Regions from separate parts of the Homo sapiens genome. Here regions 1, 2, 4, 5, 6 and 7 are each reported to be linked to region 3. Evidence: microRNA targets listed by miRTarBase, many of them from high-throughput screens and not tested one by one. Region 3 holds a microRNA gene; each other region holds the end of a gene's coding sequence.
What was found. The annotated mature microRNA hsa-miR-578 reads CUUCUUGUGCUCUAGGAUUGU and lies in region 3 at 1,195-1,215, opposite strand. An mRNA with a match to its seed (bases 2 to 7 or 8) in the 3' UTR can be bound and repressed. Matches are read on the target gene's strand: a 7mer-m8 pairs with bases 2 to 8, a 7mer-A1 pairs with bases 2 to 7 and ends in A, and an 8mer does both.

Region 1: the mRNA of TMC7 is a reported target of hsa-miR-578. Seed matches in the 3' UTR shown: 7mer-m8 at 3,480-3,486.
Region 2: the mRNA of AZI2 is a reported target of hsa-miR-578. Seed matches in the 3' UTR shown: 7mer-A1 at 3,610-3,616 and 7mer-A1 at 2,024-2,030.
Region 4: miRTarBase lists RBMS3 as a target of hsa-miR-578. Seed matches in the 3' UTR shown: 7mer-m8 at 432-438, 7mer-A1 at 968-974 and 7mer-A1 at 2,923-2,929.
Region 5: the mRNA of ZBTB40 is a reported target of hsa-miR-578. Seed matches in the 3' UTR shown: 7mer-A1 at 1,242-1,248.
Region 6: the mRNA of UBXN7 is a reported target of hsa-miR-578. Seed matches in the 3' UTR shown: 8mer at 927-934.
Region 7: the mRNA of TPI1 is a reported target of hsa-miR-578. Seed matches in the 3' UTR shown: 7mer-A1 at 3,276-3,282 and 7mer-m8 at 3,260-3,266.

Annotation. Positions count from the first base shown.
Region 1 is chr16:19,061,603-19,065,602 of GRCh38, reverse strand. It overlaps TMC7 (transmembrane channel like 7), which reads right to left. Exons shown (of 16, transcript NM_024847.4): 16 at 1,661-3,825. The coding sequence ends at 3,760. It overlaps COQ7-DT (COQ7 divergent transcript), which reads left to right. Exons shown (of 3, transcript NR_119381.1): 2 at 1,564-1,798; 3 at 2,708-2,849. Among named protein-coding and RNA genes, the nearest start is that of COQ7, 4.0 kb to the left of the region's middle.
Region 2 is chr3:28,320,369-28,324,434 of GRCh38, forward strand. AZI2 (5-azacytidine induced 2) reads right to left here. Exons shown (of 8, transcript NM_022461.5): 8 at 679-4,066. The coding sequence ends at 3,674. It overlaps CMC1 (C-X9-C motif containing 1), which reads left to right. Exons shown (of 4, transcript NM_182523.2): 4 at 1-4,066. Among named protein-coding and RNA genes, the nearest start is that of ZCWPW2, 26 kb to the right of the region's middle.
Region 3 is chr4:165,383,439-165,387,516 of GRCh38, reverse strand. MIR578 (microRNA 578) reads right to left here and starts at 1,275; the gene lies at 1,180-1,275. The region is part of intron 1 of CPE (carboxypeptidase E); the gene reads right to left.
Region 4 is chr3:30,003,488-30,007,565 of GRCh38, forward strand. It overlaps RBMS3 (RNA binding motif single stranded interacting protein 3), which reads left to right. Exons shown (of 15, transcript NM_001003793.3): 15 at 369-4,078. The coding sequence ends at 375. Among named protein-coding and RNA genes, the nearest start is that of RBMS3-AS1, 71 kb to the left of the region's middle.
Region 5 is chr1:22,526,184-22,530,248 of GRCh38, reverse strand. It overlaps ZBTB40 (zinc finger and BTB domain containing 40), which reads right to left. Exons shown (of 18, transcript NM_014870.4): 18 at 1-4,047. The coding sequence ends at 3,853. Among named protein-coding and RNA genes, the nearest start is that of EPHA8, 35 kb to the left of the region's middle.
Region 6 is chr3:196,352,921-196,356,998 of GRCh38, forward strand. UBXN7 (UBX domain protein 7) reads right to left here. Exons shown (of 11, transcript NM_015562.2): 11 at 1-3,926. The coding sequence ends at 3,765. Among named protein-coding and RNA genes, the nearest start is that of TM4SF19-DYNLT2B, 17 kb to the left of the region's middle.
Region 7 is chr12:6,870,112-6,874,189 of GRCh38, reverse strand. It overlaps TPI1 (triosephosphate isomerase 1), which reads right to left. Exons shown (of 7, transcript NM_000365.6): 6 at 4,054-4,078; 7 at 3,242-3,925. The coding sequence ends at 3,807. It overlaps SPSB2 (splA/ryanodine receptor domain and SOCS box containing 2), which reads left to right and starts at 887. Exons shown (of 3, transcript NM_032641.4): 1 at 887-944; 2 at 1,193-1,952; 3 at 2,871-3,255. The coding sequence starts at 1,289. The coding sequence ends at 2,998. RefSeq lists silencers at 478-927, 2,108-2,227 and enhancers at 1,318-1,557, 2,884-3,469.

The sequences.
Region 1 (4,000 bases), not on the chromosome of region 3:
GCCCATTGAAATGTTTGTAAAGAGCTTTTAATAACAGGAGAAAACACTAGATTCTTCAGGAAAACACATATTAAGTGAAAAAGAAATTAGAATACCAAAGTTCTTTCCTTCTTTTTCCTTCTTTTTCCCTCCCTCTGTACTTTCTATCTTAAAAAGAATTTTGCCAGGATTAACAGTGCGTGCCCATAAGTGCTGCTTTTTAAGTTTTTTTCTCTGTTGCTTTTGATGTTCTCTGTATTTGCTATAAAAAACAAGTATTTTTATAATGGCAAAACAAAATTTAAAAAACAAAAATGCATACTATTCCCTAATTCCATCCCCCTACCCACCAAATTATCCATTAAAAAAACTAGTTCCAGCCAGGCACGGAGGCTCACCCCTGTAATCCCAGACTTTGGGAGGCCGAAGTGGAAGGATCACTTGAGGTCAGCAGTTCAAGACCAGCCTGACCAACAGGGCAAAACCCCATCTCTACTAAAAGTACAAAAATTAGCTGGGCATGGTGGCACACACCTGTAGTCCCAGCTACTTGGGAGGCTGAGGCAGGAGAATCACTTGAACCCAGGTTGCAGTGAGCCGAGATCGCACTACTGCACTCCAGCCTGGGCAATAGAGTGAGACTACATCTCAAAAAAAAAAAAAAAAAAAAACACAGCCAGGCACAGTGGCTCACGCCTGTAATCCCAGCACTTTGGGAGGCCGAGGCGGGCAGATCATGAGGTCAGGAGATCAAGACCATCCTGATGAAACCCTGTCTCTATTAAAAATACAAAAAATTAGCCGGGTGTGGTGGTGGGCGCCTGTAGTCCCAGCTACTCGGGAGGCTGAGGCAGGAGAATGGTGAACCCGGGAGGCAGAGCTTGCAGTGAGCCGAGATCGCACTACTGCACTCCAGCCTGGGCAATAGAGACTACATATTAAAAAAAAAAAAAAAAAAAAAACACGGCCGGGCACGGTGGCTCACGCCTGTAATCCCAGCACTTTGGGAGGCCGAGGCAGGCAGACCACCTGAGGTCGGGAGTTTGAGACCAGCCTGACCAACATGGAGAAACCCCGTCTCTACTAAAAATACAAAATTAGCTGGGTGTAGTGGCGCATACCTGTAATCCCAGCTACTCGGGAGCCCGAGGCAGGAAAATCGCTTGAACCTGGGAGGTGTAGGTTGCAGTGAGCCAGTATCACCCCACTGCACTCCAGCCTAGGCAACAAGAGCAAGACTTCGTCTCAAACACACACACACACACACACACACAGAGAGAGAGAGAGAAAATACATACACAGGAAAACCCAGTTTCCAAAATTTCAGGGAGACTGATTTGAGTAATAATAATATTCTGGTCTCCTGTTTAGCCAGCTCTGCATGTATCAAACGCTTTCTCTGTTGCAATTCCTCTGCTGCAATTCCTCTGTCTTGATGAATGGGCTGTATCCAGGCAGCGGGCAAAATGAACCAGTTGGGCAGTTACACACATACACCCTCCTTGGCTTCAACAGAGCCAAGGAGCTTTAAAAGCACTCATCTGAGGACTACATTAAACACTTCTTTCTTTTCTCTCATTTTAGGAAAAAGCAAAGAGGAACTTTACAAACTATTACAGTTTTCCATCATCACTTGACTGCTGACAAGAAGCCTCTTTGAATTCCAGTATACACGATCACATTTTAAAACCTTCAAGACGCCGTTTAATCAGGAGTTGTAAGGCACATTTGTTAGAGAGAGCTGCACTTTAAAAGTTATACAGACATCACCTGAAGTTATTAAAGTTATCAAAACATATTAAAAACCTTCAAGTAAGAGGTATGCATATTAGCAGCATTTAACTAAAATTAATATATTAATTAGCATATTTCAGTATCACTTTTATAATAGGAAAAAAAACGCAGTACGTTTTCGTTGTGTTCATCACACACACACACACACACACACACAAATAGAAAACTTGAATATCATCAAGTCTGGTCACAGTGAAAATGTTATATAAATATAAAGGCACTGGGCAGAAATGTTTACAATTACAACTTTTTTTTTCTTTTCACCTATCTTTTTTTTTGAGATAGGGTCTCCCTCTGTCACCTAGGCTGGAGTACAGTGGCACGGTCTCGCACACTGCAGCCTTCACCTCCCAGGTTCAAGTGATTCTCATGCCTCAGCCTCCCAAGTAGCTGGGATTACAGGCACACGCCACCATGCCTGGCTAATTTTTGTACTTTTAGTAGAGACGGGGTCTTGCCACATTGACCAGGCTGGTCTCAAACTTCTGACTTCAGGTGATCTGCCCTCCTTGGACTCCCAAAGTTCTGGGATTGCAGGCATGAGCCACTGTGCCCAGCAGAATTTATTTTTTTAAGTGAGACTGGAATGAATCTTTGGTTACTCAAAATTCCATGACACCAGTTATTAGATTTAGACGAGATCAGGCATTTTCAGGGTGGTATGACTGTAGTTATTAGATTTAGAAACCCATAAACCTTACCAAGTCAGGAAAAGACCGAAAAGCTCATTGGTATCCCAGTTACAAAAATATTCCACTTTAAATAATATCTTTGTGGAAAAGCAAGAAAATGGCTGTAAGAAAGGGACGAGAAGATACCTTTGCTCCTCTGAGCAAGGATTCAGGCATTTTTGAGTAGTGGAGTGGAGATGGCCGGGAGAATTATTGTTAACAGCAACAGCTTTCTAAAACCTGCACCCAACTTTAAATTCCAGGCTACTCCCCAGGAAACGTGTGGAGCCAGTGAACGGAAGAAAAACAATGGAAGGAAGGCTTGAAAAGTCCATTACAAAACTACAGTCCTTTGAAAAAGATTTCAAAGATATTAAAATGAAAACTGATTACATTAAACAATAACTTAAACTTCTGTTCTTCTGTTAAAAGGTTGACATCTATCAATTTTGGGTAAGCTTACAATGAGGTATTTATTGCATATGGTTTTTACCATAACGGAAATCTTAAGAGATATTCTACATTTTTTTTTTAGGGAGAGTTTTGCTCTTTTTGCCCAGGCTGGAGTGCAATGGTGTGATCTCAGCTCACTGCAAACTCCACCTCCTGGGTTCAAGCAATTCTCCTGCCTCAGCCTCCTGAGTAGCTGATATTACAGGCATGTGCCACCACACCCAGCTAATTTTGTATTTTAGTGGAGACGGAGTTTCTCCACGTTGGTCAGGCTGGTCTTGAACTCCCCAACTTAGGTGCTCCGCCTGCCTCGGCCTCCCAAAGTGTTGGGATAACAGGCGTGAGCCGCTGCGCCCAGCCACATGTTTTGTGAAATAAAGGCACATGCATTAAAAATTGTAAGCACAGGAAAACAACCCTAAAAAATGTGGACGTGTGTGTTTAAGAAACCAGCCTCCAATTCTGTTTGTTATACACTCATGGGCTGGTCTGATTAACAGGCTGAGCTTCAGTCCACAACCCAAAACACTTGTGCACATAAACTCGTGGCTCAAATACTAAACTACCGTCTCCGCTCTTTCATTCTTGTAAAAGCTTGAATGGCTTGTTGGTTTTTGGTAGAGTTGTCACAGAGTGGCCGGTCTGCAGGCAAAGCCTTGGGTTTCCCCTGCTTTTCTAAGTCACTGAAGCCCTAATTAAGGGCTGGGTTAGGTAAACACAGCTGCACATATGGAAAAGCCTAAACTCAAGAAAAATATATTTTTAAATGTCCACTCAAAACCCAGGTAGACTCTGTAGGCTCAGCAGAATCACTAGGTCAGCTTAGAAGCAACAGGCAGCACCATCTTCACGCTCAGTCTAGTTAGTTCCTCATGTCCCTTTGGGCTTCTGTTAGTTTCTGGATTAGGTAGCACTTGTCACGACTTTCCTAAAAAATAATAAGTTCACATGTACATTTAATATATTTGGAAACAAATACCATCATTACCTACCAGACTGAGGGCTGAGGATTCTAACCACTGGACTATTGTAATGGCCTCTCATCTGGTCTGTCATTGTGTCTGCTCCACAGCCCCTTGTCCACAAAGCAGCCGATCCTTTTT
Region 2 (4,066 bases), not on the chromosome of region 3:
ATAGGGTGTAAAAAATAGAAGGACAAACAAGTGTGGGCAAACTTTTATAACAGCCCGCTCTCTTGAGAACTAATACCTGTAATAATGGCATAAATCCATTCACGAGGGCTCCAGCCTCATCACCCTATTACCTCTTAAAGGCTCCATTTCTTAGTCCTGTTAAATTAGCAACTAAGTTTCCAACACATGAACTCTTGGGGGACACATCAAACCATAGCAGAACCATAGATAAGGAGATACCTACTTATATGAATTAATTTTACTTACATCTTTGATGTAGAATTTTCTAAAACATAATGTTCTTAACCTGATAACTTGTTAGTCCTTTAATCTTTCATTTTGAAAAGTTATATTTCTAAGTGAATTACCATTCTGTAACATAGTAATGGACTCAGGAAGTAGTATAAAAAATTTATGTCCCAATTTAATAATTTGAGCTTTTATATTAAAAGTTATTTTTTCCCCATGAGCTGTTAACTCTTCCACAGCCATTGTAACTAGTTTCAAGATAAGTAAATTTTACGTATATTTTCACAGTCCTCATTAAAATCACAAATAGAAATTACTACCCACTAAGACAAGGTTTAACTTTCCCTAATCCCATGCAATAGATCTGAGAGATTTTTTTTTAAGAAAGAATTTAAATAGGACACTAAAGAATCAATTCAAGTTCCACACTTTACTCTTGAGTGAACCACTCAAAAAACTATTTTACTTTTATTTGAAATACAAAGAAACCACATTTTCCCAGGCCACAGATCAAAAGGAGGGAGATTACTAGAGCAGACAAAAGCAAAGCAAATATAGAAATCTAGAGACCACACAGCATAGGGGCAAACATGCCCATATTTCCACATTGACCTTTGGTATTGGTGCATTTCCTAGAGCACAGGAAGTTAACTGTTTTTAGAGATAAATGAAAATGGAAGAGTTACTTTAAGAAGCTAGTGAAATATACAATCTATTTTATAGCTTTGATTAAAATCAGAAGTAGCCCACTTCATGTAGAAAATTCACTTATGTACATGTTGCTTTCCCCATAGAAGCCAGATTAGATTACACAGTATAAATAATATGTTCATCCTCCTTATGTCAAAGACTAAACCATTCATTGTAGCCTTCAGAATACCCATGTGTATCCATACTGAAGATTTTTTTCACCTGGTACATCTGTCTCAGTTGTGTCTTGCTTGCTTATGGGTGCCTCTGTTGATATTATTCCCTGTTAATATGTGGTAACCCACAGGTTTTTTACCCCTTAAGATACACCTTCTCCAAGTAGCCTTTCTGAATTAAGATCAGTACTTTGTTGTCACATGATTCAGCTCTTCAAGTCTGAATTTTCCCATTTATTTTGGTTTTCTAATGTTTCACATAGGCATGTTCCTGCTTTTAAGAATTCAGTTCCATTTTGGCAGCAACTCAGTAAGTCTTACAGATGTAAATTTTACTTTAGCTAATAAGGGAGCAAGAGGAAGGAATAGGTGGCTTTTTGTTATGTTTTCTTCATTCTGTCGATTTATGGATGTACTGAATTGAACCTTATAAAAAGAAATCTAAAGATTCCAAAGGAAGCTCTTTAGAGCAAGTTTCAGCTAGTATGAAAGAAGTCAACATAAAATATTCAATTTTAAATAGATTCATAAGCTACAGATGGGCCACTGTTTTTTGGTTGTTTGAATTTTACCTAGAACAGAGATATCAAGTGTAGATTTAAAAGCTTCTAGCTGGGTAAAAAATTTTTGGCTAATCTTTCCTTACTAAAGAACCTTATACATCATTTGTCTAACACTTTAAACTGTCACAGTCACTGACTTTTTAGTATACCTGTTTGATAGCTATCATCACTGTACTGTTTAAATGGAAAATAATTTTCTCCACTCAAAAGCTGGTTTAACAAATGTCTATTGTATGAATCATATTAACAACCAACAATTAGTACTAGATTTTGAGATCTATAGGCAAGGACAATATTTCACATCCACTTCAATTTCAAACAAAAATATTTATTTTAATTAAACAATTTCTTGGTATTGTTCAAAACATTAATCAAGCAATTATCTCATAAGACTTTTTTTCTTTACAAAGGAAAATTTCCAATTTTGGTTTTAAAAAAGGCAAACCAGTAAGCTACATTAGAGATCAGATATAATATACAGCCTATGCAGCCACATGAGAAATAGTTTTTGCTGCTTTGTTATTACACAGGTAGTTGCTTCCTTCAGCTAAAGCCTGGAGTATTGTATTTCTTTTATGCATATTGGGTTTGGTTCTATTACTTGGCAGGAGATTGTACTCCCCTGAGTCAGCTGTGTTCATTGGTCAGAATAAATTCCAGCATCTGACACCAATTCCATTAATCACAGACAAGCTTGAATAAGTGTAAGATAATAGAAAAAAATATCTAGTGAATGGCGAACATTGTCTATGTATGTATGCTATTCAGTAATACAGTAGAAGAGATCTGAGATATTGAGTTCAAGATATATGAAACTGTCTATCAAAAAGGATAAAAGTCCTCCTACATGAAATACTTTAATTCAGGCAAAAGGTGTATGAACCAAGTAAATCTCCACCCTGAAAGAACTTAAATTTCCATGTGAAGCCATCTTTATTTCCTTCTTTATTTCCAAATAATTGGCCACTTAGAATAAGTGTGGACATTTCATGATCGACAATATCAATACAGCCCAAACCCTGATTTCTATGATTAAAAATAATAATTTTAAATCACTTTCTCAATAAATAGAATATTACATTTCAACACAAAGTCTAACAATTTAGAAGCTGCTCTACACAATGTGCAGCTAGCTGTAGTCTCTTTGAAGAAAATGACTTTTTATCATTACACACATTTATGTTTATATTATGGCCCACAGAAGGGCAGATTAGACTGAAATCTGTGTGATGCTCCTTCTACTACTTATTGAATAGTGTGTAGGGTTACAATCATTTGTTTACACCCCAGAGTTTTTCAACTATTTCATTTTTTTTTTTTTTTTTCCCAATTAGGACTTAAGGAATGTGCTGGGACAAAGTTGGCTTCAGTGATCAGGTTGTTTCAAGTCTTAGAATTCAAACTTCAATTCTAAAAAAATTTTATCAACAAAACACTGTGACCAAAAAATCACTTTAAATCTTAAATATTGAAACGCAATAGCATATAAAGATGGTATAACCTAAGATGCTTTTATTTCATTATATTTTCAATATCTTTACGCATTATAACAACAGAAATGTAACCTACTCACATTGCCATTTGTTCCATTATGCAATTTGAAGAAACATGTTTTCCTTTTATTTTTATGAACAGATATTTAGACATTTCACATTTTGTAAAACCACGTCTACAATCTCCAATTCCATTCTTCTGAGAGGCAAAATTTTACAATTAATATAGAAGGCAGAGTTTTTTAAACACCTTAAGTTTACTTATTAATTAGTATAGTAGCATATTTCAGATTCTTAGAATATGGAGCTAGAGGGTGCTCTTTCATACTAGAAAACCAACTATGTTGGTTTTTGTACTATTGTACAGTGTGTTCAAATATAGATACTGAAGACCTCTGCAAAATTTTAATCAAAATCTCCTTTCAGTTTGTTAAATAATTTCTTGGGAGGACCACTGAAAGAGATAAGTGTCCTCATGGTGAAATCGTGAATCTCTTCCAAATTAATTCTTATAAAGGCAGTTCTGATTATGTTGATCCAAGTAATGCAGTGGTGGAAGGTTGGGTAAAGGCAAAGTTTTAGTTTTAGTTTCCCCAAATGCTGTCTCACTTGATTTAGGAGGACTTGGAAATACCCAGGAATTGTCTTCCAGAGAATTTCTGCCATAAGAACTGTGTTCCTGAAAGCATGTACCATCATTAGGAATGGATCTCTCATTGTCTGTCCATGATTGGAGGATTGCTTTCTCTGATAAAACCTTTACATCTCCTGGTAAAGGGGAAGATGTGGTATGACAAAGAGCTTTGCCATTTGGTAAGAGAGGGGGATGTCTTGTGTATGTTGCAGTAAAATTCATCAAGTGCAGTTTTGTGCTGTCTCTTCCAAGGTCTTCACT
Region 3 (4,078 bases):
TTTAGCAACCTGAATTTAAGTTATATTTAGGCTTATTTAGAAAATAAACAATTTGCATCCATTTTAAAATAATGAGCCTTTGTTTGAAATGAAATGTCTTCAAATGAGGGGATTATTATAGAACTATGATGTTTAGCAATGATTTGATAGTAAAGAGATTTCTGTAGAAAACAAAATATTTACCAGTAGTGGAAAGTTGTTCCACGGTGTATTATCATAAGTAATTCATTTATCTTTGCTTAACAGCCATCTCTTTAATACTCCACATGTGCCACCCTACCCTTCAAAGATTACTCATCTAGGGACAGTTAAAGAAGTGGGTAAATCATTTGAAAATCATAAAAGACACTAGTAACACAAACAGGCTCTTCTCTTAGGCCATGTTTTATTAGAAAAAGCTGGCTGTTAGATCACTTACAAAACACCATATCCTGAATGTTCAAAGAAAGAGAAACGTTCACAGAGCAACGGACTCACGGCAATTCCAGTAATTAATGAGAAGGAAACAAAAGGGCAAATTTAAACATGTTTCAAATTTAAGTTCATTTGACCCATCACGTAGCTCGGATAAACCTCCTCCTCTGTGGCATTTCAAAGTGCACGATTTGAATACCATTTCATGAGAAAAAGGAAAATGAAAACCTGGAGATACATATCTTCTGTGTTAAAAACAAGCACACAGTTCTTAGTTTTCAACACTCAGGTCTCATGCAGAGTTTTTAAAGGTCAAAATTTTACTAAATAAATGCTTACCAATTATCTTTAAAATGTTTATTTAACACTTAAAAAGCAGCTTAACTTTCTAAGATGTCTGAAGACTCTTCTCTTCCAAAAGGAAGACAGCCCCTTACTAGTCCAGTTATATGAGACAACAAACACAGCAAGTTCAGCACTGAAACTTGAAAAGACATGTAATTCACATTGGTATATTTCTCCATTATGCAAAACTGGATTCAGTGCACACAAAAAATAAGCATATGCAAAAGAAAAGTACCATCTCTATCCTTTCTTGTTATCACACTACTGGCATGCTAATATGCATGATGTCAACATCGACCAACATGGCTTTGTTTTATGATATGCATTTTTGCCTATTTGAGAAATTTCATTTATTCAAACATATTCACTGAGTGGCCACTATGTCCCAAGCATAATACTAGACATTCAGGATTAAAAAATATATATAAACAAAATACAATCCTAGAGCACAAGAAGCTACAGGAGCTATAGGAGCTTCTTGTTGTCCGGGATTGTATTTTGTCTATAGATTTATCTGTAGACCAACAGTGGGAAATACCATAATGAGGTAATAATAATTGTTGCCACATATTGAATTAAGAACTTTATATTTACCACCTCATTTAATCATCACATTATTGTCATTTCATAGGTGATGAATTTGGGAGATAGAGAGAAGTTAATTGACTTGCCCAGGGACACTCAGCTAAAAATAAGAAGCCTCAGGATTTGAGCTCAAGTCCCCTGACATCAAAGTCCACACTGTAATTCTTTACAGCTCTCCAAAGAAATATGGAAGCATAAAGAAAGAGCCCCAGCAGGGGTAAGAAAGTTAGGGAGCGGGGAGAAAGGAGGTTTCAAAGAGCTTTTGCTTCTGCTGAGACTGTAAAAGACTAAGTTAGTCAGGACTGGAGCAGTTTCATCATAAATTCTTTAGGAAAATAAGTCAGATTGCCAATGAAAATGTTGATATTGCCGTAGATTTATTTGGCTACCTAAAGAAACAACCATAAAGACATTCTCAAATACTGATGCACACTTTGTTCCTATTGAGTGTCCTATTGAGTGACGCTTGCTTGATTCAAGCTTGCTTGATGATTATTGTTCATCATCATGTCAAACTGAAGAAAAGCAAGAATGTCCCACATTTTAAAATTGATAAAAGGCAAACAGGCAGGGTGTGGTGGCTCACATCTGTAGTCCAGCTATTCAAGAGGCTGAGGAGGGAGACACCTTGAGCCCTAGAGTTCAAGGCTGCAATGAGCCATGATCGTGCCACTTCACTCCAGCCTGGGTGACACAGCAAGACCCCATCTCAAAAAAAAAAAAAAAAAAGCAAACATTTGTGAACAAAAATAAAACAGTAAGAAGAGGGAAAAAGTCCTTCAGGGCTATCAACTAAGCCTGTGCAACAGCATCCTAAGAGGAAAGCATTTGGCAGGATTGGTGGAGGCAGATCTCACGTGACGATGCAGCCAAGAGTGCCTACTCTAAATGAGTGTAAAGGCCATGGAGCACAGTTTCCAGACCAACTGAAAGTAAAAAAAGAATATTTACAAATTAGCATTTCTTTTTAATAACCAGATGTAAGCAACTTCATTAAATGTGTTTCTATATACTACACTACTTTGGCCTCACAGCGATCCTGTGAGTTCTGTGTTCTTAACGTATTCCCTTGTCATACACAAGGAAAAGAGGTGAACAAAAGTAAAAAGCATGAAGCTATTTAACAATAAAAGAAGAATTGTGGTGCATTTGTCTAACTTTAATCATTTTCATCAAAATTATGTGTCCTTTTCAGCTCTGTAAGAGAGAGAAAAAAGCAAACAAACAAAATTATTTCTCCTCTGCCTCATTGCCTCAGAATCATGCTCTGATTCTAAGCAAAACTTAAAAGCCTACTCTACATAAACCACTACACTAGCTGTTTATGGAGGGAAAAAATGGAAAACATATGTTCCCTACCCCTGAAGAGCTCCCTGTATGAGGCCCTCTGCTGGAGAATTGCCAACTGAATCATTTTTTTCTTTGTTCTACATCCAGTCTCATGTGACAAATGAATCTTTAATACTATGATAAAGAATGATAATGGGCTAATGGAAGTGTAACACTACTTCCAAGATAAGCTCCCTTTTTTATTGTTGTTGTTGTTATTTTGTTTCTGAGATAGGGTCTCGCTCTGTCGCCCAGGCTGGAGTGCAGTGGTACAATCATGGCTCACTGTAGCCTCAAATTCCTGGGCTCAAGCGCCCTCCTAAGCCCCCCAAGTAGCTGGGACTACAGGCAAATGCTACCATGCCCAGCTAATTTTATTTTTTTGTAGAGACAGGATCTCATGATGTTGCCTAGGCAGATCTCAAACTCCTAGCCTTAAGCACTCCTCCTGCCTCAACCAGGTGTGAGCCACCAGCCAGCGGGAGAGGAGGAAATCCCATGGTAAAAGCCTGGGAAATCTTATACAGTACGAATCTAACTTGGAGATTTGAAACATACATTAGCCTATTAAGAGCTCTGTTAGGTCTTTCAATATACAAACCTGTTTATCTTTGTTTACATAATGCCTATCAAACCATGCTGAATATATGTTCTATGGAATATATTTTGAGAAAAGCTGGGTTAATGTGTCACCCGTTACAAGAGCTATTTTGTATTTCTTAATAATATTTAGAAATAGGATTTCGCCCCGTGGTAAGACGGTAAGGGAGTTACTAGCAAATGAGTCGTCTGCCACCTCTGAAATCAGTTGTCACAGAAAGCTGCCTCTTTTGTCTGAGCAAAGGCTATCATGTAGGGGCAAGCCCAACTTGCCTTCTCTTCCATTAACCAATTACAAGTCAATCAAGAACATCACTTCTGGCAAAAGCTGTGTTGACTCATTCAGGTCTAAAAATAACTCTTGACCATGTGTGGTAGGTCTAGATTCTTCTCTAGGATCTAACATCTATCTTCACGAATTTTAAGTTGTTACTTAGTTGTAACCATTTGCCACTAACACATACTAATCTGCTATAAAAAGACGCCATACAAATAATAAAAATCCCCACTTATTTTTTTCAAGTTGTGTGGAAACTTTGCCAGCATTAAATGTTCCATCACAATATTTGGCAAATTCATACTGGCATTTATACACTTTATATTTTAACAGATTCAGAGAGGAATACGTCCAAAATAATCATTCCAGCCTTTGAGAAAGAAAAATCCTGCTCTAAAGAATGTTTTTGAGATAGCGTTTTAGCTATAAATCAGATTTACTTCCCAAAAGCTATCTTGAACTACGTGTAAAAGAAATAGTGTTTTAAGCAAATTAATCTTAACTCATATTTAACTCCGGGTCGAGTGG
Region 4 (4,078 bases), not on the chromosome of region 3:
GAGATAACATACAACCCAGTTATTTTGGGTGCATAGTAAAGAATCTCATATTTGTTGCTGGAATTAGTGATGATTCCTATAGTAGTTTTGAAGGAACAGAATTACTCAAAGGATCTGTAAGGAGCTATAACATAAGCTATTACCCTTGATTTTTAATGTAAACAAACTCTCTGGCCCAAATCTGTATTTAAATGAAAGTGGCAGAATTTGACAATCTCATAGACTCAGTATGATTTTATGATGCTTTTGTGACTATGTTACATTGAAAGCTTGGTATCTTTTAAAGCTGCCTCATTGGAAAAGGGCACAGAAGGTGATTTCAAAGTTACTTTAATTTAATGACCACTCTTATTCAATTGTTTTCACAGACCATAAACAGGACTGAAGAATGTCTGTCTGAATCTTTGCCTTGAATGAAGAAACTTCATTGAACAAGAAGTTGGCTTCCAGTTTGCACAGACGTCAATGGAATGCATTTTTTTGTTGTTGTTGTTGTTTTTTTTTTAGTGTTATACCTTACCCAATGAAAGCAAAGTTTTTATGTGCTGTGCAAATGGTCTTCATGTGGTCTGACAATTTATTTTTGCCATCATTTTTTTAATTAAAGAAAAAATTTCCAGAAGAGGAAAAAAAAACTACAAAAAACAAAACATTGAAGGTTGATATTTTATGTGGAAGAACATTTGAATTGAATTCAGAATTTTTCTGAAGGTGTAGATACTTTTTTTTTTTTTTTAACAGAAAACCTGATGTCAAGAGGTGGGCAATAGAAATGGAAACAAATTGTCTTCCTCAATAATTAAGCTACTTTCTCTTTTTCCCTTCTTGTTTTAATCTAGTGGGTTTTTTATTTTATTTTTTCTTAGAAATATGTAGGTAAGGTTTATCTTGAATCTTAATTGCCTTAATTTTAAGGACGTCAAAGGCTCTCGAGGCAAGCTGTCAACGTCTTGTTGAAAACAAAAATCAAGAAAGAATTGAAATACTGTGCCGGCTTTCACTGGCACAGAAGTTTAAGACTATGAGTTTTTAGGGTGAAGAAAAAACTGTACAGTTTAAATGAAAATGTTTTTCTTCATTTGAAGAAAATTTGTTGATAAACCATGGCAACTGCAAGAATTGGAAAAATGCTGGGACTTTTCATGAACTTTGTCTTAAGTGTTGACATGAATCATTCTAAAAGGCTAAAACATTTTACAGTAAAGTTATTAAGGTTGGTTTAAAAACAACTGCATTAGAAATAATGCGTGTTTGGGGGGCAGAATGCAGATTTTTTTAATTTACAAAGCGTGATCGCTAGCAAAAGCATTAGTGCTTTTTATCTGCAGTCTTTTTTATGAGCTTTACAAAGTTTTTAGTCAGCTTTGCTTGTCACATTGCAAAACCTAGCTTAAGAGCATTAAAAAAAAAAACTTAAGTAGATAGGAGCTTATGGTCAAAAAGTGCAAAAAAAAAAACAAAAAAAAAGCAATAGATAGAGAAATTGTTGACAATTTCTGTAGTCTTTCCTAGTTGTGATCAAATTCAGCCTATGGATGGCCTATTTTATACCAAAGATGAAGTGACACCCTATTACAGTCCAGAAGATAGAGGTTGTTTTCGTTTCTTTTCTTTTTAAAAAAAAAAAAATTTATTTGACCGACATGGCCGGACCAGTTCTTTCTTTGTTGTTTGTTTAAACTACCTTCCACTGGTGTTTTACATAGTGCAAAAAAAAAAAGAGGGTGGGGGGAGTTGTCTCTCTTTTCTTTAAATGTGTATTCATTGATAGCAGAAGCTTGTACCTGCTGTGTTTAGCAGTTTCAGCATGAAGAGTTCTGGATATGAACTGATTCATAGAGCCAAGTGGCTTTAAATTCTGTGAGCTTTTCTGGTTTCTCACTAGCTGTCTTGAATAGTGAAACCTGTATTGATGGCCACTAGTAAACCAAGATGCTTATTTAACAGGTGGAATATTCTTTATATGAAATTTCAGCTAAAGACACTTTCTGGACCTGGTCTGAAAGGTCATTTGTCAAAAAAGCTTAGGGATATTCTGTGAAATGGTGAGTGGTCTCCTGGAAAGGTCTCATTGTATTTGAACAATAGTCTTCCCTCTAAATTACAACACCTCTGGGTTTTGTCTTTACACCTCTGTCTTTGTCATCACCTACCATGAATAGTCACCTTGGTTTTGCAAATGGGGAGGGGGTATCATCTTTTTGCCTGTTTTCACTGTATTTTTGTATATTGGTGTTGCCGAAAGAACTTTTTCTTTCAGTTTAATTCTTTGAGGCATGTAGGACCAATAAGATTGAGAATTCTATTGGTGGAATTTAGGGAAGTCCTTAAAATGCTAGTTGACAATCAAGGAACAGTATGATTTATATCAATAAGAACCAAAAGAATTAGGTTTGATCAATCATTTAAGCCAAGGAGGAATACTTGCATTTAGAACAATGCAAAACTTTGTCTAAAATGAATTAAATTGACCCACCTGTAAAATATATCTACATTTTTAATTCATGAGATGATATGTGTTCAACCTTTACAGTTTTACCTGAAATTAAGGACAATGGAATAGAATTTGTTAAGTGAACCATTCACTAGATTGCTTTCTGAATGAATCCTTTGAATCAAATAGGTGAAACTCTTTTCAAAAACTAAGTCAGTCACAGGAGCCTGTCTTAGTCCAAAAGAAGCAGGGAAATGTATTTAAGTGTACTATAAAACAGGGTAGGCTTTTTAAAAACTAAAAAGTTTTAAAGGTAAATCATATTCCCATTAGGTCAACATGAGTAATAAGGTTGACTCATGTGAAATTGTCAATATTCTACTATTTCTGTAAACTCTGGTTCTCTTATTTGCAACCCCATGCACTGGAAGCCCAAATCAGAGAATGACTCCATATATTTATGGTCACATTGGAGACAAAAGTGTATCCAAGAAAATGTAGTGTGCGTTATAGAGAAATTCCAACTGGTCACACTCACCATTATGGTTTTTCATGCTTTAGAGAAAATGCTAGATTTATACTGTCTTTTGTTCCATCCTTCAGCTTCCCATGCATTATAAAGGTGGCACTTAAGTTTTTATCTTTGAAAAGTGGGCCCCAAAGTTTTTTGGGGTACAAAAAGACATGTATGAGAACCATATTTTCTGTTTCTCTTTTTCACTCTCTAAACTCTTTTTGTATAAATAAGGATTATCCTGGGCATAATTCATTTGAATATGAAACCAACATACTTTCTTTCATTTTTGTGAAAAAATAACCAAAAACATGTATTAATGTGATACAAAGAAAGTCTCATTCACACAATCAACAATGAGGCTAAGAGGTAGCTACCATGTGGCTAATGAATGTGCCTAGGTAACTTCCTGTTTCTATTCAAAACTGCTGCTTTATTTGTACATTCAGAAATATTTTTTTCAACTATGAAATTTCAATATCAATTTTTTAAGCCAGTTTCTGCAAAAGGAAATGACCTGTCATTTGATGTGTTCATGTGTGTTTTGTGTTTGGATAGTTTATATCATGCCATTCTATAAAATGTATGTTTTCAAACCAAAAAGAAAAAAAATAGAAGGAAAACAACGGCACATACTCAAATTTGCCCTGCTTTGTCTGTTGTCTTACCTAAGACTTGTTTTGAAGAGCCAAGTCTGGGAGAGAAAAAAAAGCATCAACAGGTAAGCAGCATTACATTGTGTGGTAATAAACCAAAATAAGTTTTCAATATATACAGACAACAGAATTCAAATTTAATCAACAAAATATATTGTAGTGATTTGTTTGTTTGTTTGTTTGAGACGGAGTCTCGCTCTGTCGCCCATCCTAACTAGGACTATAATCTTTTTTTTTTTCTTTAAGTTGAAGTTAATTTTCTGTGCATTCTGGTCCACCAGATTTTCAAGCATTTATTTGGATGTTTCCATTTTTCCTTTTGACTTTAATAGCCAAGACTTAGCTTAAACATCAGGAAACAAACTAAAGCCACAATCCAAATGAGAGAAACACTGTCTCGTCTAAACTCTAGTTTCATGGTCAGTGCAACAGTGAGTTTTCTTTTAATAATGGTATGGTATTGTCAAGGGAGGC
Region 5 (4,065 bases), not on the chromosome of region 3:
GCAGAACAGGGCTGGGGTGCTGAACTCACCCTTGGGGAGGACTCATTATAGCATCCCTGCTTTTTCTCCATTATCGTCCAACTGCCTAGGCCCAATTTAATAACATGCTGCTTGTCTCCCTGGAACCGCCTGCCCACTCTATACATGGTTAGCACTTCCCTCCCTCCTTTGGTCAATGTGCAGCTTCCAGGCACGTGAGGTTTAAACACACACCCGCCACCCCATTAGCCTGTCTTCAGCTTGTGGTGACCACGTCACCAGCCCCCAGGTGAGAGACGAACTCTTAGGGCCCTTCTCACCATTCTCCTTCCTTTCTGGGAGTCCCTGATTGATCCCGCAAATAAAGGGCAGGGACCTGTCTCCCCACTGTCTGTCTGACTGGATTTCTTTTCACCCCTCAGCCCCGATTATCAGAACTCTAGCCCGAGGCATGAAGCTGACATGCCTTCCGTGGTCAGTGGGAAGTCAGAATGCTTCCTCAGAGGAGACCTGGATTGCCAGGGAAACCTGGTACTCACACTGCAGACCCTGCTACTCACTGGGCTCAAAGTTTCCCAAACACAGAGCTTCTGAGACAGAAGAGAGAGGCTGTCTCTTCATGTCTCTTTACCCATAAAATAAATGAGTAAAGACCCCTGGTCCCTGCCCCTCTGGTTCCAGGTTCTGCTCATGCGCGTGGACAGTAGGAGTCTCACCTTCCCGCAGTAATCCTTGCTCTTGAATCATCTATTTGCTGTCTCACTTACCTATGATGGGCAAGTCCTGTTCCATAACTGACCCCAGTATTCCCACAGAATCACACTCCAGCCTGGAATCTGACTGCCTTTCCCTCCTCACCACCTGGGCCATGAGCTCTGGGAGCAGAGGTCTGGGGACCCACCGAACAGATCCATGTGTTCCAAGAAGCCCACAGACTCCTTCACACCACCCCAAAGGCCCCAGAGTTCAGTCCAGAGGCCATAAGGGCAGCAGCCTATGGGGAACGAGGCAAAAACAACACCGGGACCCCATGGAAGCGAGCGATGTGGACTCAGGAGACCACACAAACACTGTCCTCTATGGCAGCAATTCAGGTCTCTTGGGCAGAAGTAGGAGAAAAGGATAAAATGGCCAAGCAGAGTCAGAAAGTTTTCCTATAAGATCCATGCCTGGGCTTCTCTAGAGAGCAAGACTATAAAATCAGTCAGCCAGTGCGGAGCCCACTCAGAGCAGACAGTAAACTCGGGAAGGGCCTTCCCCTCTTTCTTGATGAGAACCAGCACTGGGTTTGTGCCTTCTGCTGAGTGTGCCATGGGCCAGAGGGCATCTGATGGGCCCCGGCAGCCAGTCCACTCTCGGCACAGTAAGCTGCAAATCTGGTGATTCCGAAGAAAACAAATGTCTTGTCACAATCTGGGTCTCCAACAGAAACCTGGCCAGGCGTAGTGGCTCATGTCTGTAATCCTAGCACTTTGGGAGGCCCAGGTGGGAGAACTGCTTGAGCTCAGGAGTTTTAAACCAGCCTGGGCAACATGGCGAGACCCTGTCTCTACAAAAAAAAAAAAAAATACAAAAACTGGCCAGCAGTGGTGGCTCACGCCTGTGGTCCCAGCTACTTGGGAAGCTGTGGCAGGAGGATTGCGTGAGCCCGCAGAGGTTGCAGTGAGCCAAGATCGTGCCACTGTGTTCCAGTCTGGGTGACAGAGCAAGACCCTGTCTCCCCCAAAAAAAGAAACCTGAGAAAGAATTTCTCAGTGCTTGAAAGGATCTGACACTGGAATTCAAAATTTACAGCCCTCTTTATTCCGAAGAGTTTTTTTTGTTGTTGTTTGTTTTTTCTTTTTAAATCACTTCCCTATAAGCCCTCAGCAATTATTTCTAGTTTTGTTTTGGAAGAAATTTTAATGACATTCACTGCAACTCCCAAGCCCCATCCCACAGCTTGTGAGGGGCTGGATTCTCATCCACTGGACTTGGCACCAATGCCCTGTAAGCATGTGCCACTCTACGATCTTTCAGTGGGTTTTCTCTGCTGCCAAGGGGATATTCAGTGCCATTTTGCCACCTGCAGATCAAGAGCTCTCCCAGACTGACAGTTCCCAGGACGGAAAAGCCTTAATACAGGCACAGCCTTGGTAGAAACAGTGAGCCCTTCACATGGAGATGAAGTCTTAAAGGTTTGAGCACCATCTTCTGGTCAGTTTTTGGCTTCTGAGGCCGACTCTGCTTTAGAAACTTCATTTATTTCAGAATGGCAGAACCCTAATTGACAAGCTCAAGTGATCTGCGTATCAAAATGTGGACAGGACCAGAAGCAGGTGTAGTCGGCTGGGATGAGCTGTCCCAGGCTGGCCGGAGCTGGCGCTCGCTGTGGAAACCGTCGGGGCTGCCTGCACAAAGCCGGCAGATGCCAGTCAGTGGGCGTGCTGGTCAGTAAGGCTGTGCCTTCTGCGCTTCAAGCAGGGTGAGACCTGACCATGTGGGAGCAATAAAAGCTTCCATGGTGACCAAACGTGACTCCTGCCTCTGTACATGGCAATGTGAGATGTGCCTGGAAGGAAGGGGTGGCCCCATCTCTGCCAGTGTGGGATCCAACCAGGCACTCCCCTCCACAGGGGGTCAAGCCACACAAGGTGGCAGACAGCCCTGCCTGGTGTGTAAACACCGCACCAGCAGACTCCAACCTTTGGCATGGAAGGAAAAGAAGATAAATGCTAGTCATTCTCTCCAAACGGCAGGAACCTACATCTATCTAATTGCACTTCATAATGGATTCCACAAACCATTAATTATCAGATTATATTTTAGGAACTGAAGATAAAAAAAGCTTTGTGAAATTCAAACTCCAAAGGATCACTGACCTGCAATAAGTGTGGCGGCCTGCGGGAGGTGAGGCAGCAGGCCACTCACAAGGCAGGGAGTGGGCGGCAGCAGAGCCACGGGCAGTCACGGCTGCTCCTCCACACGCAGACAGGACTGCCTGCCTGGTGCTGGTCACAGTCTGCACCATATGACCCAGAGGGAGCCAGGCTGCCAGGTCAGGCAGAGATTTCAGCCTTTGATTAAAGGAAGGGGATGAAGATGACACGGAAGAGCTGTGGGAACCAGGCTTCAGGTAAGGAATACCAAGAAGAATGTCCTGGAAAGGCAGACACTGTCTAGCAGCTGATGCCTCACATTAAACACTTCCAGCAGAAACTCCAGAGCTTTGTTTTGGGAAGAGCTGACAACTGACAAGGGGTTATCAGGCATGGAAATGAGGGCTACCTGTCCTATAGCCATCAATAGGGTGCTGGGCGTGGCCACTGGGTGGAGGGGGAACCCCAGCAGAGGGTAGGATGATAGGACCGAGGAAGGGGCCAAGTGTGCCTCAGGAAGGGGCCTAAGGTCCCCGAATTGTCTGTTGGTGCCCCTCTCACTTTAAATGGCCAGAGGCAGTGGCAGCATTTGCAGCCCCCACTGTGGGCCAAGTCCCATATCTAACTGCCATTCTGCCCACTGAGCGCTGTCGGCACATCATGCCTCCTGGGGTACCCTGGTCACCAGCTCCCATCCCACTGCTCTTTCAGACTCTACTTCTGAAGCCACATGTCACTTGGGGATGGACAGTGTCATAGAGGCCGCAGCAGCGGGCCTGTGGGGAGGGAGGCCTGTCTGCTACAGAGGATGGTGCTGTTGGTGTTGAGGGCTCAGATGCTGTTGGTTCTATGAGAACAACGAAGCTTCCATCTGTTTTCTAGGTGAGACTGTGTTGGTTGGTGCTAAGCTAAGATGCTCACCACTCAGGACAGCCAGGGATGGAGGGCAAAGGGCAAGCTGTGGGGCCTCCTCTCTGCTGCAAACGCAGGAAGGCTCTGCCGGATGAAAGGCTGCTCATTTGGCCTCACCACAGATCAGCGTCACTGTGCCATCCAGCAAGTCCTCCACAGTCACCGCCACGAGCTCAGAGCTGGCCTGAGATGCCTGAGAATCTGGCAACGTCACAAACACCTGCGACCCGGCAAGCTGGGTCTCCTCCAAAGTGATCACCTGCTCTGTCGGGGCCACCGGCTCTGGGGTTTGGATCACCTGAAAGAGAAAGACCGT
Region 6 (4,078 bases), not on the chromosome of region 3:
TTGTTTTTTTACCCTTTTCATTTATTCTTGGCAAATAATGCCACGTGGCAATTTTACTTTCACATCTTCACCAGTGCATCATTTTAAAAAAGCAATAATCAGCCTCTCAAAATAATGGCATAAATAAAAATGTATAGGCATAGTGCAAATCCCACAACTTTAACCCAACTACTTCCTCTATATTTATGGGAACAAAACTAAGTGACACTTTACAAAGCCAAACAATGAGAAGAGAATCATCTGGGTAGCTTGATTCTCTTGCTGAAGGAGACCACAGCATGGACTCTGGATTCCAATTCTGATTTGCCACTCACTAGCTATGAGTCCTGAATAAGTTCTCTATACCTGTTTTCTTAACATGGGAAGAAAGTATACATTTTGTACGATTCTTCGGGAGATTGAAGAGGCAAATGTACACAAAAGTATCTGGTGCATGCCAATTAGTATTAAGTTTCCTGTTCTTTTCTCATTTGGCACTGTTGTTTTCTCTTCTCCAGTTCCTTCCGATACCAATTTCAAAAAAGTATTCCTCTCACTTTTTTCCCACTAGTTTTCTTCTTCTTCTTCTTTTTTTTTTTTAAATTTGAGATGGAGTGTCGCTTTGTCGCCCAGGCTGGAGTGTAATGGTGCGATCTTGGCTCACTGCAACCTCTGCCTCCCAGGTTCAAGCCATTCCCCTGCCTCAGCCTCTGAGTAGCTGGGATTACAGGTGCACGCCACCACACCCAGGTAATTTTTGTATTTTTAGTAGAGACGGGGTTTCACCATGTTGCTCAGGCTGGCCTCGATCTCCTGACCTTAGGTGATCTGCCCACCTCCGCCTCCCAAAGTGTTGGGATTACAGGCATGAGCCACCGCGCCCGGCCTTCCTGGTAGTTTCCATTCCATCTCCCTGTATTTTTCTCTTATCACTCTCGAAGTCTATCTTTCTTGTTCTTTTCCTCCCTAGCTTTTTTTTTTTAAACACTCCTTTCAAGCTGTGTCCAACACCCACAAGGAATGACTATTTTTAACTAATCTTACTGACCTCATTTAATCTATTCAATAAAACCTCTGCCCTAAGGAGCAAAGAAACTTGCAGAGGAAGTAAGGCAAACTGGAAGAAGCATACTGTCAGCGGATTAAATTCTTGAGCAAGGCAATACTCCTTATGGATTCTTCCCATGTACAATCCGTAACTCTTCCCATGGGCCTTTATATCAACCCTAAGATAATTACACTCCTGCCTCAAAATAAAATAAAATAAAACCCACCACATCTTGTATTGTAGACATCCCAGCTGCATGTTAAGCTGAGTGAAAGTACCATGCTGTCTTTTAAATCACTTTATATCTACTTAATCATCCCACAGTAACCCGAGTTGAAGAAGTTACTTTGGTTTCTCATAAATGAATATGCACGTGCTGAACATATCGGAAAGAACCACACCCTCTCACTGATGAACACGTTGGCAGTTCTCCCAACTGTTTTATCAAGAGAAGCTAGAAGGTAAAGAAAAGGAAACAGAGCCCTATAGGAAAAATGATTGACTTCACACGTTTGAGCGATTTGGGCTTCAGCTATGACTTTGCTGGAGTACAGATGGGTGCCATCAGAGCACAAAGCTGAGCAAACCTCTCTTCTTACCCTGTGCCCTCCCTGAATTTTTGGATTTCTGAGCTTGTCTACTACCAACAAATGTTTTACCCTCCAGTGCACCTTTGACAGTATACAGCTCTATTTTTCAAACGGCAAGTATGTTATCCAAGTTCAGAGATGCAACTGAGGAATTAACATGAAAACCATCTTTCACTCAATAAATCAGAAGCTGCTAGTTAAGTAAGCCTCAAGAACCTAAGAAAAAACACCAAAGTGTAAGTATTACTCAGTCACCAATCTAAAGACAGAACTTTGACTCAAGGTAGAAATGAAACCGTAATTATATAAATATATTTATAAATATTTATACAATTATATACTTATACATAAGCACTTACACAGACTTAGAAAAAAATTTAAGAACATTAATTCAAAAGGACTCACTGAAGAATAAACAGATTTTTCCATGATTTCCTTGAGGAGATATAAAACTCATTCTTTAGGGAGAGTTCCTCAAAATTCAACCATTAGAAACCATATCCTATAACTGTGTACTAGCAACACATGGCATCTTTTTTTCTTCTTTTCCCAAATCCCCTAATTGCCAAGAGAGCAATCTTAAAGTAGATGAAAACCTAAAGGTCTCTACGCAACATCTGAGGAACATACGCTCCTCAGATAAAAGAATCAATCTAAATCCTCAACTGACAAAAAGGTCCATTTAATATTTTTCATTTTACAAGTTAAAAGTTCTAGTTTTGCCACCAGAATCACGACTACCCCCCCTTCAGAGGACTCCATTTAAGCTCAAAATACGAAATGAGCATAGGGTGAAGTTGATGTGTAAATGGTATTCTACAGATTCAAGATGGCCTCTTCTAAAAACACTGAAGAAAGCTTTCACCAACTCTAATTTGATTTTGGGTTTTGTTGGCAGAAAAAGCCCAAGACATCTGAAAATTACTAGTAACCTCCGCCATCCTCCTTACTAAATGTTGTCTTCTGAATGGAGTTGAAAGGTCTTCCCCTTAGAGAGGCTTTCCGTTTTGATACCTTTTGAAAGAAAACAGCATGCGGACTCATGTTCAATTCAGTCACCAGAGCCTTTTAGAGACTATTCCAACCAGGGGCAAAAAATGAACCATTATTTCTAACCAAAAGAACATGGTTAGCAACTCTCAGCTGAATGGTTTTCTTTTTCCCCAGGGACATACCTAAGTATGCCTGAAACAACACAGGACAATCAATAACCATAGTGGTTACAATTCCAAGCCATTGTACTACATGATTATTGACCAGCTGCCTTCCTACAGATCACTGCAGACTCAGACAATGGAGGGCTCCAAAGGAACTAATATGCTGTGCTGGCAAAAATAGCAAGCACCTTCCTATCCCAGTCACCACGATAGGTTCACTTCATGTCCATTCTTGGACTAGCAGGATCAATACAGAGTAATAAGGAAAACTGTCTCAGGTTAGGACAATGAAAGTCACCCCATGCTATATGCTCCATATTTAACACTCATTCTGCCAATAACACATGTCATGGAAATAGTCCTTATAGCTGGGAACATGAAAATCCTTTGAAAAAGGTTTTTAAGTATGATGAGCAATCATTACAAGGGATGCTTTTTCCACGTAAACAAAAGCCTGGATATTTTGTTAAGCGACATTTCCACATGAAGAACACAACAAAACCAAACCCATGTTAGAGAATTTCTTCTCCCTGCTAAACACGGGGACTTACAAAAAAGGGAGGGTTGTTCTTACTCTGAATCTAGCCATTCCTTTGCCCGAAGAGTCTGGGGAGTAACGTTAACATTTGATCCCAAAAAAGTGCCGTGCAAGAGACCACTTACTGGAACACACAATTCCTGCTGCTAGTACTAGGAGAGGTCTTATCCTTACACTTCAGTTTGGTCACCAGATTAGGTAAGAAAGAAAAGTGTGGGGGGAGGGGGAGGCAGAAGGGTACGGAGTGGGGAGCGAGAAAACAGAAGAGGAGAAAGAAACAAAGGGGGAGAAAGAGACTGATTATAGGAGAGATCAAGAAATAAGAGAAGGAAGGTGACTTGCTTGCCCAACTTTGGCTCTGTGGTCCTATGAGCCAAAATGCATACTTAGTGACATGTATCTCACAGGAAAAGGGAAAAAAGGGGTAAGCTGAGAGAGGTCAAGCCATGGTGTTAATTTCTTTCCTGTACAAAGACAGTCTCTTGAGGACAAAGGCCTGCCTCTTGCAATGTAATATCATAGTCCAGATGAGATAATTTCCTTCGAGGAAAGTTGGTGAGAAGTTCAAAACGTTCATTTGGGTATCCTTTAGACTGCACGTGCTTCACCAAAGCCTATAAAAACAAGAGAAAGACAAAGCCATTAGACGGAAAAAGAGGAAAGAGCATATTAGTGAATTAAATAGAAAACATTCTCTTTTTAATCATATTAGATCAGCTATTAAATGTAAGTTCTTCTTTCATATAACCAAAGCTTGCCCTTGGGG
Region 7 (4,078 bases), not on the chromosome of region 3:
TCAAGGCTGCAGTGGGCTGTGATGGCGCCACTGCACTCTAGCCTTGGTGACAGCAAGACCCTGTCTCAAAAAAAAAAAAAAGAGAAATCGGGCAACTTCCCCAAGATCGCGCAGTTAACTAGTGGCATAGCTTCACTCAAACTCGAAGTCTTAATCAGGACACTCTACCAAATGAGATCAACGGCTCAGTAATGGATTGGCATCCAGTATGAAGACTGGACCAGCAGGGAGAACTATGATGCGTACAGCCTAGAGCCTGAAGCAGATTTCACAGCCTCAGAGGTGGCACAGGCTGACTCACAACCCGGGGCAGAAAGGGACCAGCCCAGAAACAGTGACCCAGAATCACAGGGAAGTAGAAATGGGATTCGGCACAATGAAGCCCCTCCTTGACCCCATGCTCCTTACCCTCAGGGGCGCAGGAGTTAGTCGCTCAGGCGGCTCAAAGGTCTTGACGGTGGAGAACACCATCCCCAGGGATTCCCGACGCGGTGATGCCATCAAAGCGTTAATTCTGAGATGGGCCTGCCCGGGTGCGGACTCTGCCGCAGCAAGAGAAGGGTTAACTGCCCCGGGCCTTCGCCGTGGGGGCGGGGCCTCGGGGAGGGTCACAGCCCGGGACTGAGACCCGAGGTTAACCGCCCGGGGTGGGCTCCACGGGGGCGGGGCATGCTCTCCGCGGCTGCTGCCGGTATAGAGCGGTAACTGCCCAGGAGGGGGCGGGGCCCCACAGGGGCGTGGCCTCGGAGCTGCACGGCCGTGGGCGGCGATGAGAGGGTTAAGCCCCAGAGGGCCCTGGAGGGGCGGGGCCGCGGGACGGGCTCGGCCCAAGGGAGGAGCTGGGGGCGGAAGCGGCCGGCGGTCTGCGCCCTGCGCGCCTCGGCTTCTTTCCGCCCGGCTCCTTCAGAGGCCCGGCGACCTCCAGGGCTGGGAAGTCAACCGAGGTTCGGGGGCAGCGGCGAGGGCTCCGGGCGAGTAAGGGGGATGGTCCATGCTGAGGCCCAAATGGGGCGAACTCGCGAGAGTCTCTGGCGACCTGGATCAGATGGGGCGAGGGCAGATGAAGGGCCCAGGAGCTTTGGGGCAGCGAGGAGGGAGGAGCGGGCCCGTTGGCAAACTTGGGTGAAAGGATGGGGTACCTGGGTGACGAGCCCCCGCCAGGATTCTGCTCTTCACGCCCCTTTTCTCCCAGCTCCCTTCCAGGTCAATCCAAACTGGAGCTCAACTTTCAGAAGAGAAAGACGCCCCAGCAAGCCTCTTTCGGGGAGTCCTCTAGCTCCTCACCTCCATGGGCCAGACAGCTCTGGCAGGGGGCAGCAGCAGCACCCCCACGCCACAGGCCCTGTACCCTGACCTCTCCTGTCCCGAGGGCTTGGAAGAGCTGCTGTCTGCACCCCCTCCTGACCTGGGGGCCCAGCGGCGCCACGGTTGGAACCCCAAAGACTGTTCAGAGAACATCGAGGTCAAGGAAGGAGGGTTGTACTTTGAGCGGCGGCCCGTGGCCCAGAGCACTGATGGGGCCCGGGGTAAGAGGGGCTATTCAAGGGGCCTGCACGCCTGGGAGATCAGCTGGCCCCTAGAGCAGAGGGGCACGCATGCCGTGGTGGGCGTGGCCACGGCCCTCGCCCCGCTGCAGACTGACCACTACGCGGCGCTGCTGGGCAGCAACAGCGAGTCGTGGGGCTGGGACATCGGGCGGGGGAAGCTGTACCATCAGAGCAAGGGGCCCGGAGCCCCCCAGTATCCAGCGGGAACTCAGGGTGAGCAGCTGGAGGTGCCAGAGAGACTGCTGGTGGTTCTGGACATGGAGGAGGGAACTCTGGGCTACGCTATTGGGGGCACCTACCTGGGGCCAGCATTCCGCGGACTGAAGGGCAGGACCCTCTATCCGGCAGTAAGCGCTGTCTGGGGCCAGTGCCAGGTCCGCATCCGCTACCTGGGCGAAAGGAGAGGTGAGGCCTGGGGCAGACGTGGGGAGAACTTTCTGTCCCTGGTGGCAGTGGTTTGGGATGGAAACTCTTCTGACAAGAGCAGAGGGGATGGACCTTCATCCAGCCTGCCTCAACCTCTGTTCAGTGCTGGGAAAGGCTAGGGGTCTTCACAGCTGTTATTTAATTTAACCCAACAGCAATAGAGGTGAAACAGGCTTGAGAAAGCAACTTTCTCAAGTTCTCTTGGCCAGTAAATGGTGAACCTTCAGAATGGAGGGAGGAACTGCAGGGATGAGAGAATTCAGGAGATATCAACCCCTGAGCAAGAGGTGCAAAGCGTTAGGTACTGGGTTTGATGTACAGGTCCAAAAGAAGGATGGGCAGAGCCAGGTACCCAGGCTGTATACCGGATTCCCTGGGCTCTAACCTGTCTCTGTGCCACATACCTACTTCCTTCCTCAGCCACACCTCTGGATGGAGACACTGGGGCCCTGGGCACCAGGGAGGAGAGCAGTGGAGGAGGCAGGGCCTTAGGGTGGGGCAGCAGGGGAGGAGCCTCCCCAGGAACTGACTGGGTCCAGGGCTTGGAGCTGCTCTCTGCAGTTGTGTGGGCTGTAGAGTGGAGGGCCATCCCTCCTCACCTCAGCCCCAGCTCCCAAGCCTCTGGAGTCAAAGCCTGGGCCAGCTCCACCACTGTCAGAGCCACCTTGGCCTGTTGTTTAGAGGGCCTTAGCCAGCTCTTCACCCCCAGCTCTGACTAGGGATGTGTGAAATCTTATCTGGGAGGCAGAACTTCCGGGTATCTCAAATTCCCCTTTCAGCCAGGTGGGCACACTCGAAGCAGGAAAGCAGAAAGGCATCTGAGTAGGACCCCGTAGTTTGAGGACATCTGGCTGGTGGCTGCACCCATACTTACATTCCCCTCCTTCTCTCTCCCAGCGGAGCCACACTCCCTTCTGCACCTGAGCCGCCTGTGTGTGCGCCACAACCTGGGGGATACCCGGCTCGGCCAGGTGTCTGCCCTGCCCTTGCCCCCTGCCATGAAGCGCTACCTGCTCTACCAGTGAGCCCTGTGATACCACAGACTGTGCTGAGGTCTTGCCACCACCCCTCCCCTTGGGGAGGTGGGGAGGCACTGCTGGCCTAGACCAGCTGCTGAAAGCTGGTGAGGCTGAGCCCCTACCCCAACCCAAGCTCTGCGGAAATCAACAGCCCCAGAGCCACTTGGAGGGAGGAAGAAAGGGAGCCGGCGTTCAAGGCTATGACAGTCTGCTACGCAAAACATTTTTTCAAGTAAAAATAGTAAGAGATGTTGTTATAGAAACCTGTTCTTGTTTTTTTTTTTTTCTTGCACAAATGATCATTTATATAGCTGCCTCAAAAAGGAAGATTATCTGGGCAAGTCCAGTGAAGGCAGACAAACCACAAGACCTAGTGCCAGGTTTATTCCCTCACATGGGTGGTTCACATACACAGCACAGAGGCACGGGCACCATGGGAGAGGGCAGCACTCCTGCCTTCTGAGGGGATCTTGGCCTCACGGTGTAAGAAGGGAGAGGATGGTTTCTCTTCTGCCCTCACTAGGGCCTAGGGAACCCAGGAGCAAATCCCACCACGCCTTCCATCTCTCAGCCAAGGAGAAGCCACCTTGGTGACGTTTAGTTCCAACCATTATAGTAAGTGGAGAAGGGATTGGCCTGGTCCCAACCATTACAGGGTGAAGATATAAACAGTAAAGGAAGATACAGTTTGGATGAGGCCACAGGAAGGAGCAGATGACACCATCAGAAGCATATGCAGGGAAAGGGCAGTTACTGGGCTTCTGGGCTGCTTAGTCCCTGGCTTGGCAGGAAGGGTAGGGAAGATGGATGGGGCTCATTGTTTGGCATTGATGATGTCCACGAATTCGGGCTTGAGGGAAGCACCACCCACAAGGAAGCCATCCACATCAGGCTGGCTGGCCAGCTCCTTGCAGGTTGCCCCAGTCACAGAGCCTGGGAAGGGAGCAGAACAAGGGCTTGGTCAAGAATGGGATGAGTCTGCCCCATCCCCACCTCCATGTCCGAGGGCTCAGTCTAGTCCTCAGCCCACTCCACCTCAGCCGGGAACCAAAGCCACTCACCTCCATAAATGATACGGGTGCTCTG